Homo sapiens: one gene and its partner. The protein of the gene in region 2 interacts with the protein of the main gene of each other region in a pairwise test. Each region holds a gene or a part of one and is shown on either strand. Other genes may lie near its edges.

The links. Proteins that work in one complex are often made in the same cells at the same time.
Region 1: the proteins of SLC35B1 (region 2) and DRD2 interact in a two-hybrid assay, tested with the Homo sapiens proteins (one large-scale study listed by BioGRID and IntAct).

Annotation. Positions count from the first base shown.
Region 1 is NC_000011.10:113,464,562-113,469,002, forward strand, and holds part of DRD2 (D(2) dopamine receptor), read right to left. Parts: intron 1-4,441. UniProt on the Homo sapiens protein: Dopamine receptor whose activity is mediated by G proteins which inhibit adenylyl cyclase. Positively regulates postnatal regression of retinal hyaloid vessels via suppression of VEGFR2/KDR activity, downstream of OPN5.
Region 2 is NC_000017.11:49,705,165-49,709,164, reverse strand, and holds the start of SLC35B1 (solute carrier family 35 member B1), read left to right. Parts: upstream 1-1,200; 5' UTR 1,201-1,220; coding exon of another isoform or gene 1,221-1,331; coding exon 1,332-1,435; intron 1,436-1,720; coding exon of another isoform or gene 1,721-1,822; intron 1,823-2,096; coding exon 2,097-2,200; intron 2,201-2,830; coding exon 2,831-2,961; intron 2,962-3,268; coding exon 3,269-3,299; intron 3,300-3,883; coding exon 3,884-4,000.

The DNA of each region.
Region 1 (4,441 bases), on a different chromosome or scaffold from region 2:
GCCTGGCCTCCTACTCCCCAAGCACACCCTTCACATTAGTCACCTGCTCCTATGAGTGCATTCTGAGCACTGACATCGCCAGGGGTGTTCCTCTCTGAGGTTACAAATTTAGTTACTCCACTGTGTGACCACAATTGCCTCTGCAGCCCAGTTCAAGTGCTCAGTGATTCCAAGTATACCAGTTCTCTGATTTCATCAACACCATCAGTCCACCGATTCTATCAGCCTATCTTCCCTTCCCTTTCAATCCAGCTTAGGTTTCTGGCCCAATATGCATACACTTTTACCGATATCCTTAATTCCCTTGCTTCATTGTTCTTAAATCATCCTTGGCTTCTCTCTTCCCCTCATCCTCCATAGCCCATCAATCACTGAGTTCTGGCGAATTTAAGATATCTTTTCAGGTCTTTCAAGCCTTCCTACCTCCACTGCCCCTCCCTAGATCAGGCTGCCAGCATTGCTGTCCTGAACAACTGCAAACTCTCCTAGGTACTCTGCCTCCAGTCTTGAATCTTCTATAATCAGTTCCCCCACATAGCAGCCTCTGTGATTTTTTTTTTTTTTGAGACAGTCTCACTATGTTGCCTAGGCTGGAGTGCAGTGGCCTGATCTCACTGCACCATCTGCTTCCTGGGTTCAGGTAATTCCCGTGCCTCAGCCACCCCAGTAGCTGGGATTACAGGTGTGAGCCACCACATCCGGCTAAGTTTTGTAGTAGAGATGAGCTTTTGCCATGTTGGCCAGGCTAGTCTCAAACTCCTGGCCTCAAGTGATCTGCCTGTCTTGGCCTCCCAAAATGCTGGGATTACAGGCATGAGCCACCATGCCTGGCCAGTTTTTGTTGTTGTTGTTGTTTGTTTGTTTGTTTGTTTGTTTGTTTGTTTTACTGCAAATTGAATCACTGGAGTTGTCCCTGTGCTTAAAACCCAATCCTTCAAGTTGGCTTCTTTTTTCCCTCAGGATGGAATCCAGTCTCCTACATAAGACTTCAAGGTTCATAGTCAGGCCCCTGCCTAAGCCTTTGGCCTTACCTTGTACCATCTTCACTTCAAATCCCATTCATTAGCCACTGAGTTTCTTCAAAACTCCATGGTCTAACCTGAGCCAGGTGTGGAGGAAAAACCCTGGGCAGAAGTGAGTTCTAGTCCAGCTCTCCTACTTCTCTGCTGTGTAACATTGGGTTCTTTCAAGTATAACACTCTATGCCAATTCATACCTGGTCTAATGTCTTCATCTGCAATGGTGTCTTTCTTCCCTCCAGAAGAGAGAATATAAAATTTGGAGCACAGGTTGGGAAGGGTTCTGTGGACACTTCTCTGCCCACTGATAATTACGATAAGGATAATGATAGTGAATGTTTGCTGAGAGCTTACCATGCATCAGGTACTGAGACAAGCACTTTATGTGCGTGACTCATTTCCTTTGCACAAAACCCAATCAGGTAAGTATATAGTCATCCTGTTTTATGAAGGGATAAAGAACTGCATCTCAAAGGGGTGATAGTAACTTGATAGAGGTCACATAGCTCATGACCGATAGAACAAAGATCTGATCCTGCATTAGCCTGGTTTTTGAGTGCTCTGAACCACTTTGTTTAACTAAATAACTAGAGGGACAGGGGATGCATAGCCCACTTCTTAAAAGTGCTTTGTGGAAAGATAGGTTCAAACTGTTACTGCGTTTGGAGGGTCTTGGGTATAATCATGCTTATCTGTACCTTTTAAAGTAAGGACTAGTCCAATTCCCCAAAGTCTAAACACAGAAATCACCAAAGCACTAATGGCATCCCTCAATAACAGCTCTTTTGTCTTCAGGTCCCCAGGCTGACCTGAACAAACACACCTGTGTATGTTTCCTCAACAGCCCCCCCAGTGCATTTTCTCCATGAGTGTGTCTGATTGAAGTAGGTTCCAACCATTCAATATTCCCCAACTTCCATGCCCTGTGACAACTGCGAAAAATTTCCATCCAACCTATAATGTCTTCATGGCTGAGGGTGGCCAGATAGTGCAGGTTAGGGATGAAAGAGAGAAGGCATGAAGTATGTTGCTGACCTATGAGATACCTCTAGTGGGGGATGCCTCAGACACTGCCACTCTTGTTAAGCTGCAAGTAAAGTAGAGGGAGAGTGTCGCTATGGGGAAGTAAGCTGTCTCTCACCTACCCATCACTTATCCACTCACCCACTCTCACTCAACAATTTAAGTAACTACCAAGTGCCTAGCACCATTTTAGGTTATAATAGATTTTAGAGAAGCATGAGACAAATTCTCTGCTTCAAGGAGCTCATGGTCTGGTGGAGAAGACAAGAAATGCACAATTGAGAGATTAGCATTAAGCATTAAGTTGGCTCCTCACAGAAGACAGGCCACAAGGGAGATTTTGTGTCATTAGTCACAATGTGACTCTAGAGTGATCCCAGACCTTCAACTACACATACTACTAAAGAAAAATAGTGTGTGGAAACATGGATCCACCGTGGTGCGGGGGCAGGCGGTGGGAGGCGGTGCTGACATCCTCTGCCTGGGACCCTGGAAGTTAGTTTCTGCTTGTCAACACATGTCTCTTATTGACCCTGCCATAAATGAGTGAAAGAGTTGAAAGGGCTGAGTCCAAAAAAGGATGAACCAAGGAAGATGACCCAGGAACAGAATACCTACAGTGCCTTCTGAAATATTCTACCATAGCTAAATGGTGAGCATTTGTAGCTGGCCAGAAATAGATGCACATCAATTACAAGAGAGTCCTCCCCAAGAAGGGATTCATAGACCAAGAAAAAGGCCAACAAGAGGGATTATCTTTATGCACTGGGGAATCTCAGGACCAGAAGCTACTGTTTCCATCCTCCTTTCTCAGGCAGGACCATACTTCACCTAAAAACATGATAGCATTTGCTCCTGCCAAGAATGACTCCAGAAGCTGCAGAACACATATTTCTGCCAGCTTTGGGGGTCTGCTCATGTGAAGTTCTTTGGCCCTTTCAATCTGGGAAAAGAAAAAAAGTCACCTTGTCCTTGTACACCAGTACATTCTCCTTGTTTTTTGTTTTTAATAAAAACTGGCCTGTGCCAGAGCAACATACCATGTGACACTGCCAATCAGGGAGGCTCCAACCATGAGGTAGCAGACACAGAGCCCAGGAAACCAGGAAGAAAAATTAGGCCATGAAAAGCTATCACCAGGATAACTTATGCCTCTTCCTAGCTCATGTGGTGTAAGATGGAAATGAATTCAGCTGCACCTAAATCAAAGGGATGACAAGCAATTCAAACCCCTATCTCGCTCAAAATGAGCAAGAGCTGCTGACAGGTGAAAGCCAAAGAATTTTGGTGCAGATAAGTGGAGAGTGTAAGAAAGAAGTATATCCTTGAATTTTGTGAACGTTTTAGAAACATGATTTCAGAAATGTAAAATCAGGTGCTGAATTACTGCAAAAGGACAACAGCTCAAAGTGTTGTTTCTTACTTAAGCATCTTAATAATAACAATAACAATCATTACAGTTAACATTTAAAGAGTACTCACTTTTCCCAGGGACTCTTTCAAATGTCTTGTCTCTATTACCTTAATTAATTACTGTGACCCAATTATGTTGGTATTAACATCCACTTACAGGTGAGAACCCCCAGGTGATAGAGGTTAATTAACTTGCTCATGGTCACATAGCTAGTAAGTGTTAGAGTCAGGATTCAAATCCTGGAAGTCTAATTCCAGAGCCCACAGGTTTAACTACCATATGGTGTTGTTTTTAAAGGGTTTAAATAGGTGACTAAATATTGATATATGTCATTCATAAAACTCATGGTGAGGCTCAACAACAGAGGAGTCTTCTCACTTATTATGAGGTGAACACGATTATTACAGTCCCTTATTTGTGCCTGAAATAACTGATGAGCAGGTTAAGTGCCCTGCCCAGGGACATCCAGGCCTCACCTGCCTCTGTCTATCAGAAAAGCATTGATCAGGGTTTTTTTTGTTTTTTGTTTGTTTGTTTGTTTGTTTTTTGAGATGGAGTCTCGTTCTGCCACCCAGGTTGGAGTGCAGTGGCACGATACTGGCTCACTGCAACCTCTACCTCCCAGGTTCAAGCAATTTTCCTGCCTCAGCCTCCTGAGTAGCTGAGACCACAGGTGCATGCTGCCAGATCCTAATTTTTTTGTGTGTTTTAGTAGAGATGGGGTTTCACTGTGTTGCCCAGGCTGGTTGTGAACTCCTGAGTTCAAGCAATCTGCCCACCTCAGCCTCCCAAAGGGATGGGATTACAGGCGTGAGCCACCGCGTCTGGCTAATCAGCTCATTTTTTAAAGGCAGCTCTCATGAGTCACTCCTGTGTCTGTCCAGGATCCCAGGCCATCCCGCCCTCACATTTCTGTAAAATGTGGAAGCTTAGTCTTGGAGATATAACAAGTTTTCCTTCTATGGTAATAAGAAAGCAAACCCAA
Region 2 (4,000 bases):
GGAGACAGTGGGCTGGGGACACCCTATCTTCTATCCCTTACTCCTCCCTCTAAAAGACTTCTGGCTCCCCCGCAAAGCCTTATTGAGTCAGGCCCGGAGCGATGGGTGTGGTGCTGCCCAGTATTTCCTTCCTTTGCCTGAGGCTGTGCCAAAAGAGCAGGCTGCTAGAAGAGGAGCCTCGACCTAGAGAGCAGCCCAGAGTCCACCAGGTGGCCGGAGATTTGGGCCAATTAAGTAGGGGGTTGGAGGTAGTAGTAGGAAGACCTGAGGTCAGTCTTGCCCTGGCAATTCGTGCCAGCAAGTGAAGACCCAACACTTGCATGAGGAAGGGATCCAACGAGGAGCTCATTAATGGGAAATATTCAGGAGCGCGGCCGAAGGGTTTGCGCCATTGTTGGTGAGTTGTTAAGACTTGGAAGAAAACTGACTTCAGTAAGCTTCCATTTCCACCCCTCGATGTGAGGAAATAAGATCAGGGCTGACAAACAGTGATGACTAATAATACCTTAAGCTTGCACAGCATACTTTACAGTTTACAAAACACTCTTATTTGATCCTCACAACAGCCAAGAGGCGACAAGGTGGCTATTACTAATTATCCCTAGTTTCCAGACCTGGAAAACTCTGGCTCAGAACTTGGGTGACACGGGTAGGTTACCCCGCCTTTAAGTGACCAAGCCGAGACTTACTGTGCCGCTCTCCCCCTTGGAAGCCTAGTGATGTGCCTAGGTAATGAGCAGGTAAAGTCGCTGACGCTGGGCAGCAGCTAGACGGCGCTGAAGCTCCAGTAAGGAATTTGGCATTAGGACCCAGCAGAAGCCTGGCCGCCCGCCGCGGAAAAGACTATTGGATTTGCTCTGCCGACCACACCTCCTCCCGCCCCGCCTACCTGTCCGTCTTCGCACAGCGCAGCCAATTGGTGGCCTCCACATCCTTATACGTCATTATTCTACGCCCAGGTGGCTCTAGGACACCCTGTGGTGCTCTGGGTCGCAGTTGTCCTCAGAGTTGCCTGATTGGAAAAATCTCCAGGGCGAGGGATCAGTCTCGAGGCTGCCGGTTCCCCTGGCCCTCAGGGATGGAGCCAAGGTCCCAGGGCGGGTTTTCTTTCCTAGGAAGTGGTTGCTGGGTTCTGAGGAGTTTCCCCCTTGGCAGCCATGAGCCGGCAGTTCTGGTAGTGACTGCTGGGCCCTGCTGGACAGCGGTCGCATGCAGCTCCTATGAGGCCCCTGCCGCCGGTCGGCGATGTCCGGCTGGAGCTGTCGCCTCCGCCGCCGCTGCTGCCGGTGCCGGTTGTGAGCGGGTCTCCAGTCGGCTCCTCTGGGCGTCTCATGGCCTCTAGCAGCTCCCTGGTGCCCGACCGGCTGCGCCTGCCGCTCTGCTTCCTGGGTGTCTTTGTCTGCTATTTTTACTATGGGATCCTGCAGGAAAAGATGTGAGCGACCCCGGGGGCGGGCCGACAGTCTCTCCCCAGCCTGTGACAGGGATCCCGGGCCTTCTGCCTCTGGACCCGGGCTTTCCTCTTGTCCTCCTGCCCGGCTGTCGCCCTCTTAGCACCCTACTACTTTTGCAGCTATGGCTGAGCCTACCCAGAATTCCAGAACTCCAGGATTATTTTCTGGATTCTTCGGACTTGGTTATTTTCTTTTCTTAGCTGTTTTTCCCCGCTTGGTTCTAAGGGCCTGCGTTTTACAGGCTGAGACTTCTATTCCTCAAACAGGACCCGAGTCGGCCCCCTTTTGGTACTCCCAGATGCTTGCAAACAACCTATTCGTCCTCGGCCTTGGTGCCATAGCCGAAATACCGTCTCCTCCTGCCTGGGGTACCTGATTTCACTATCTCGTTCTGCATGTTTCCTCTCCGTCTTTTTCGGGTATTCTTTTCTTAGGCTTTGGAATCAGTAGGCTGGGATGTCTAGTTTCTAGATCCAGTAAAATCAGCCCCTTTTGCAAATGAGCCTAGTGGTCCTTAACAAACTCTGCCTACATCCAGAGAGGCAAGATAATTTTAAAGTTTTCAGTGGCTCGGGATATATTAGATGACAGTGAGTGAAATACACTAATTTCTCCCTCTTTTCTCATGCATTTCATTTCTAGAACAAGAGGAAAGTATGGGGAAGGAGCCAAGCAGGAGACGTTCACCTTTGCCTTAACTTTGGTCTTCATTCAATGTGTGATCAATGCTGTGTTTGCCAAGATCTGTGAGTACCCAGATAGTAATTTGTTGGGTACCCCACCACCCCAAGTTCCCTCAGTATGCTGGGCATTAAGCATTGATTCAACCTTAAAGGCTAACTCATGATCTCCACCCCATTTTGTACTTACACAGCCTCTCTGTGAAGTCTGTAAAACTAATGACTTTGAAGTGGAGTAAAATATTATTTCCCCAATTTTTATCAGCTTCTGAGTTAGAAATGTTCAGAGAATGGGTCTTCTATATTCCAAATCCCCATTGAAAATACTTAAAACATTTTTTTCTTTCCCTTTGAGTTTCTTTTGTGTGTCAGCTTCAAGCATGCTTTGAGCATTCTCTCTTTGTTCCCTGGGGACTAGCAGCAGAGCTGACTGGTCCCTTGAACTGAATGAGGCCCCCACCTCCACCCTGCATGTGGTCTTTTGTTGGGCTTAGGTAGAATTGGAAAGATGAATAATTTTCAGAGATTTCCCAGTGTAACAGGACAGAAATAGCTTGTGTCTTGTTTGACAGACAAGTTCCTTTCATGTGGCTTCAGCTTTGCTTAGTGGTCCATCCTAGCCCCACCAGGTTTCTCTTGTTTTTTTTTTTTTTTCTTTTCTTTTCTTTTTTTTTTTTTTTTTTTGTCTTCTCCCAGTGATCCAGTTTTTTGACACTGCCAGGGTGGATCGTACCCGGAGCTGGCTCTATGCTGCCTGTTCTATCTCCTATCTGGGTGCCATGGTCTCCAGCAATTCAGCACTACAGTTTGTCAACTACCCAACTCAGGTGAAACCTCAGGGTGGGATGATGGTTGGCTCAGATATCATTTGAAAAGGACTAAGAGTTCTTCCCTCAGGTCTGTGAGTTAAAAAAAAAAAAAAAAAAAAGATAACGGTCCTGTAAGACATTGGGAGTGTATAGAACCATAGAACTTACGTTTAGTGGTGGTGGGTTGGGCCATGATAGGGCTGCTTTCTGAGGCTGAGGTCTCTGGTGCAGGCCCTGTGCTTACTCATCTTAATCAGTGCGGTACCTAGCATAGTACCTGACACATCACAGATGCTCAGAAATTATTTGCTGGATTTAATTTCAGGTCCTTGGTAAATCCTGCAAGCCAATCCCAGGTAAGCAAAGAAGATGGTCTTCCTCTTCTGTCGTCACTCTTCCTATAGTAAGCTCTCTCTCTGCTACAACTGTGTCCCTCTCGGCTTCATCATCCCATCATGGCTGTCTCCAGGGACTTTCCCCCAGCTCTCCCTGCTGCCCATCCTGTCATCTGTGTCACTTCTTGTGATGTTCATAGGCTGGTAATCCTTAATAGGAGCTAAAGGCTGACCTAGCCTGCTTCACTTGGTCAGCCATTTCTGTGTTGCATGTGTTTATATTGTCATTAGACAACTTAATTCCCATTTTGATCATCAGTTTCTTTATCTCAACTTCTTTTCCTTCTCCACTGTTCCCTACCCTTGTCCTGTCCCTTCCTGGACTTTTCACCTTTGTTCTCTACCTCCTCCCTGTCTTATACTTAACCCTGTTGCTCAATCCTTATCTAGGTGCCAGCCTGGCACCCTCCTTTTGTCCTCTCTAAGCCTTCCTTCTCAGTCATTCTTTTCTCCCTGAGTCTTTTCTTGGTTCCTGGGAGGGAGGGCATTGGGGTCATCAATACCTTATGGATGCCTGAATTTTCCACTCTGTTTTTTCCCTGTAGTCATGCTCCTTGGGGTGACCCTCTTGAAGAAGAAGTACCCGTTGGCCAAGTACCTGTGTGTGCTGTTAATTGTGGCTGGAGTGGCCCTTTTCATGTACAAACCCAAGAAAGTTGTTG